2 separate regions of the Homo sapiens genome follow, and region 2 is linked to region 1. Evidence: fine-mapped expression QTL. Tissue or cell type: whole blood. Region 1 holds a variant in brackets; the other region holds the start of a gene. All regions are shown on one strand. Distances are between the middles of the regions.

Region 1 (2,678 bases):
TTGCTATTGCCACAGACACCACCACTTTGTAGAGTTGTCATGAGGATTGAAGTTTTGTGCATCAGATGTCTAGCCACTTCTCTGCCTAAGGCTACCACTGTTTGACTTCTAATGGCATAGATTCATTTCACCTGCCTTTACTTGGTGTTTGCACTCATGTTATTCATTCTTGAGATGAGAGTGGTGAGAGTGAGGTATATAATGGTGTAGCATTCGGGTTTCAATTTGCTTTTCCCCGATGATTGGTGAAGTTGAGCACTTTTCCAATGTTCTGGCCACTCGTATATCCTCTTTTGTATGAGGACTTTGCCCTTTTTTCCCCCATTGGTTGTCTTCTCTCTCTCTGTCTCTATCTCTGTTTCTCCCTCCCCTTCCCCATCTCTCCTGACTTGGAGGACTTCTTTATGTATACCCTTGGTGTGAGCTCTTTGTTGGACGCGTGGCGTGACCATCCTCTCCCATACTATGATTTGTTTGCCTTTACCTCTTAGTGGTGGCTTTGGATGAACAGAAGTTCTTAACTTTAATGTGGTTCATTTAATCATTTTTTCTTTTAAAAATGTTGTTTATTTGTGTCTTATTTTAAAAACTTTGTATAGTCTTTGAGAAATTTAATGATACTACCTTAATTTCATGCTTTCCTACCCACCCTCCTTTTGGGACCAATTTGGGTGAGGTAGAAAGTGCTTCTCTGGCATAAAATCCTTCATCTGGTACTCTGAACTTAATTAATTGGTTATAGAGTTTGGTTGATACTTGAACAAGCAAGCTAATATTGAATTACAGAAAATTACAGTCTACGTGGCAAACTTTTCTCACATCTCCTGTAATTTAACTTGCCCTCCCAGCTTAGCAACTGGAAAACATTTTTTCCTTACCTCAAATAAACTCTGTGGTAATCGTGTGCCCATTATTCATTACAAAATCCCCCTTTCTTTCTGAAGCAAAAGTCTTCACCTGCTTCTGTCTTCAGAAATCCATGAGTGGCTGCTGTCGCCCTGGCCCCCGCGGCCCTGTGTGGCCCAGCCTCTGCCCCATGCTTGGCTTCATCTATGGCCACCTCTCCTCTTCAGCTGGAGTCGCATTGCTGTCAGGAGCTAATTTTGGCTTCCTGGATGCTCCTGCCATCTGCCATAGACACACCCTTTCCTCCCCGGGCACGCCATGCTGACTTCTCCCACCCCTCCTGCCTCCTCAGCTCCGGAGCATTTATCCTCTGGGCTCTGGCTTGGCTGCCCTTTCTGGAAAGCCTGCCTAAGCCTGGGCTCCTGGGTCTCCTTTGCTGCCTCAGGCTGCTCTGACTTAGTGCCACAGGAGGTCTTGCCACTGTGTATGGTGATGGCTTCTTTATTGGTCTCTTTCTCTAATCAGGGTATGGTCTCTCCAAGGCAGTGACTGGGTTTTCTCTTCTATTTCCAGGGCCTGG[C/T]ACATAGCAGGTGCTCAGTACCGAGTAATTGGTGACGGAAAGACATTTGGTGGCATGGCCCTATCAGCCGCATTTCGAGAATGAGGCTGATGGGAGCATGCCTTTCTCTCCTGTTGGCTGAGTGGAGGACGTAGACAAGCGTGTGGGAACCACTGTGCGATTTTGAATGTGCGGCACGGCTCTGCCTTAGATGCTCCCCTCTCCACGCCTGCTCTGTGCAGGTCACTGCCTCTGCTGCTCTACCTTAGACACCGCCCCCTTCCCGGAGAGGCCTTCCTCTGCTTCTTGGTCATCTGAGGTCTCATCTCAAGGTCCAGCTTCTGTCCCACCTTTCTAGGCTACCTTAGCCTTTGGTGTTTCTCTTTTTTTTTTTGAGATGGAGTCTCGCTCTGTTGCCCAGGCTGGAGTGCAGTGGCGTGGTCTTGGCTTGCTGCAACCTCCGCCTCCCAGGTTCAAGAGATTCTCCTGCCTCAGCCTCCTGAGTAACTGGGATTACAGGTGCCTGCCACCATGCCTGGCTAATTTTTTGTATTTTTAGTAGAGATGTACTTTCACCAAGTTGGCCAGGCTGGTCTTGAACTCCTGACCTCAAGTGATCCATCCACCTTGGCCTTCCAAAGTGCTGGGATTACAGGCACGAGCGACCGTGCCCGACCATCCTTGGTGTTCCTTATGTCTCTGACTTCATCTGGAACTTGTTCTGTATCAACCATCATTCCATCCTCAAACTTTTATTATAAGAATACTGAACCATGCAGAAGAGTTGAAAGAATTTTATAGCAAACACTTACATACAAACCATCTAGGTACTGTAATGAACATTTTGTTATATTTGCCTTATTACATATCTATCCAGCCTCCTATCCATCCTTTAATCCATCTTATTTATTTATTTATTTATTTATTTATTTATTTATTTTATTTTATTTTTTGAGACAGAGTCTTGCTCTGTCACCCAGGCTGGAGTGCAGTGGTGCGATCTTGGCTCACTGCAAACTCCGCCTCCCGGGTTCACGCCATTCTCCTGCCTCAGCCTCCCGAGTAGCTGGGACTCCAGGCACCTGCCACCACGCCCAGCTAATTTTTTGTATTTTTAGTAGAGACAGGGTTTCACCGTGTTAGCCAGGATGGTCTTGATCTCCTGACCTCGTGATCTGCCCGCCTCAGTCTCCCAAAGTGCTGGGATTACAGGCATGAGCCACTGCACCTGGCCAAATCCATCTTATTTTTTTTTAATGCAGTTTAAAGTAAG
Region 2 (2,678 bases), 190 kb before region 1:
AGTGGAGACTGGAGTTTCACCATGTTGCCCAGGATGATCTTGAACTCCTGACCTCAGGTGATCCACCCGCCTTGGCTTCCCGAAGTGCTGAGATTACAGGTGTGAGCCACCACACCCAGCCCTTTTTAGTGTTTGTTGTTGTTGTTGTTTGAGATAGAGTTTTGCAGTTGTTGCCCAGGCTGGAGTGCAATCGCATGATCTCGGCTCACTGAAACCTCTGTCTTCCAGGTTCAAGCGATTCTCCTGCCTCAGCCTGCTGAGTAGCTGGGATTACAGGCGCGCGCCACCACATCTGGCTAATTTTGTATTTTTAGTAGAGACGGGGTTTCACCATGTTGGCCAGGCTGGTCTTGAACTCCTAACCTCAAGTGATCCACCCGCCTCAGTCTCCCAAAGTGTTGGGATTACAGGTGTGAGCCATTTCTCCTGGCCAGGATTTTTTAATTGAAAAAGAAATACATGTACATGTTAAAAGATTCAAACAGAACATTAAACATACATAACGGAGAGCGGCTCTCTGTTTTCAATTTTCCCTGCGGATGCCACTGTTAATTCATGTGCTGGGCATCTTAAGTCTGTAAGCCTCCCCCATCTCCTGCTTTATTTTATTTTATTTTTGAACCCAGAGGGGTTTAAATCCTTAAATGGCTTCTGCCCGCACTTAGCAAGCTTGGCGCCTTGGCACTGAACTAACGACAGCTGTCCTAGCCCCTGTCGCCTCTTTGGAACCTTTTATGTGGATGGATTGTTGGGGCCCTCAAAGTCGGGAGTGCCATGGTGCCAGCTGGGGATCAAGACCGCGCGCCACACAGGGGGAAGCCGGCCCAGGCTGGGGCTCGCACCTCACGTGCCTCCCGGGCCCTGCGATCCTGGAGGCGCTCCCAGGCCGCGCGCGCCACGGTCACCCACCCACGTGGGGGGCACGACCGTGGGAGTCACGGGGGGTACCGTGAGGGTCACAGGGGGTGCCGCAGGGATCCACAGTGGGCTTCCGCGGGGCCTCCACCCCTGAGCTTCACAGAGGAAGTGAAATTTGAGCTGCGCGCCCTGAAGGACTGGTAAGCGGCGGGGACAGAACTGGGCCTCCTTCCAGCTGCGCCGCCCCAGGTGCAGAAGCTTTCCTCCTAGTCTCTGTTCTCTTGCTCCGGTCCCTCCCTCCCTCCTCGCTCCATCTCCCTCCATCTCCCTCCTTCCCTCCTCCTCTTCCTCCCTCCTTTCACCCCTCCTTTTTCCCTCCCTCCTCCCTCCTCCACCCTCTCCCTGTCCCCCGCTTCTCTCTCTCGCTGCCCCTCCCTCCTTCTTTCACCCCTCCTCCTCCTACTCTCCTCCTCCTCCCTCCCCGTCCCCGCTTCTCTCCCTCGCTCCTCCTCCCTCCTTCTTTCACCCCACCTTTTTCTCTCCCTCCTCCCTCCTCCTCCTCCCTCCCCATGTCCCCTCCCTCCCTGTCCCCTCTTCTCTCCCTCGCTCCTCCTTCCTCTTTTCTCCCTCGCTCCTACCCCCTTGCTTCCCTCGCGTCTCTTGCAAAACCCGGGACGGATCGGGGGCCCAGGCCTGGCCTCCGCGCACGCGCAGGAGCAGCGCCGGCTCGGCCGCCAGTAGGAAGCGCCAGCCCAGAGCCTGGGAAGTGGCCGCAGAGGCTGCTCGGCCCCGCTGCCCGCCAGGTCGTGGGCTCCCGCTCCGGGCCCGGGGCCACCGGCTGTGTAAGTGCAAAGCGGGGGGGCTCCCGGTCAGGCAATTCGGACCGGCTGCGGGGAGGGCTGCGCGGCTGGCCGTGGAGTCGGCGCGTCCCGCGGAGGGGCTCGCCCGGCCCTCACCTGTCCGGGCGGAGCCCGCCACACCTGTCCGGGTCCGCTGCCGGGCCGGGGTTCAGCGTGCACCTGCTCGAGGCGCCCTTGCTCCTGTTGGCGCTCTGCTTACATCTGTCCAAGGCCGTGTCCCACACCCGCTGAAGACTCGGCGGACACCTGTCCGGGACCCGGCCCACACCTGCTGCCCGGGCCGGCTCTGCTCTCCCGAGCTCGCGGCGGGGGTCCCCTTCCCCTCTGTGCCTCCGAGCTGTCTCCGCCTGGCTTCCCCTCCCGGGCCGTCCGCGGCGCTGGAGCCCCCCGCCCCTGGGCCTGGCTAAGCCCACTGGAGCCCGCGGGGTCTGGGACGCGCGGCTGGGGCCTGGGGCCCAGCACAGCCCACGCCCCCGGCGCTTTCCCCGCCCTGAGTTCCCGGACTTCTCCCCTAGCCCTTTCCCTCCTGTCTCCTGGATTCAAAGTGCCTGCGATCTAGCTGGGCGGCATCAGGCGGTGCTCTCTGGGATAAGCGCGCTGTCAACTCCAACTTATCCCAGGGAACCCTGGGGAGAGGAAGTCAGGCTACTGGCCTGTGGTCTTCTCCCTGTCAGCCCACCCCAATCCCCTCCACCCCTGCAGACCTTCCCAACGTGAATGTCTGTTAACCGAAAGTTTTCCCGTGTTAGGATGCGTTGTCTGTCTTCAAATGTTTCTATAGAGAGAGGAATTAAAACGCTGGAAGCAAGGCCCAGTTGAAAGGTATGGGGGAGTGACTTCCCTTCCATCCCTCACGGCCCCAGTTTAAACTGGTGACTGTCCCGTGTTTCTAAGGTAGTCATAGCTACCTATGACATCTTTATTTGTTAACCTGAAACAAAGCACCGGGTGGATGATGTT

The links. PIP is the estimated chance that this variant, and not a neighbour inherited with it, causes the effect.
Region 2: it holds the start of TRAPPC9, and the variant in region 1 is fine-mapped to the expression of TRAPPC9 in whole blood (INTERVAL, PIP 0.94).

Annotation. Positions count from the first base shown.
Region 1 is chr8:140,269,221-140,271,898 of GRCh38, reverse strand. The region is part of intron 15 of TRAPPC9 (trafficking protein particle complex subunit 9); the gene reads left to right. The region is part of intron 1 of LOC105375779 (a long non-coding RNA gene); the gene reads right to left. Among named protein-coding and RNA genes, the nearest start is that of PEG13, 170 kb to the right of the region's middle. The variant C/T (reference allele first, on the strand shown) is at 1,427.
Region 2 is chr8:140,456,661-140,459,338 of GRCh38, reverse strand. It overlaps TRAPPC9 (trafficking protein particle complex subunit 9), which reads left to right and starts at 1,595. Exons shown (of 23, transcript NM_001160372.4): 1 at 1,595-1,700. RefSeq lists silencers at 741-1,050, 1,171-1,410, 1,501-1,890, 2,001-2,050 and an enhancer at 823-1,341.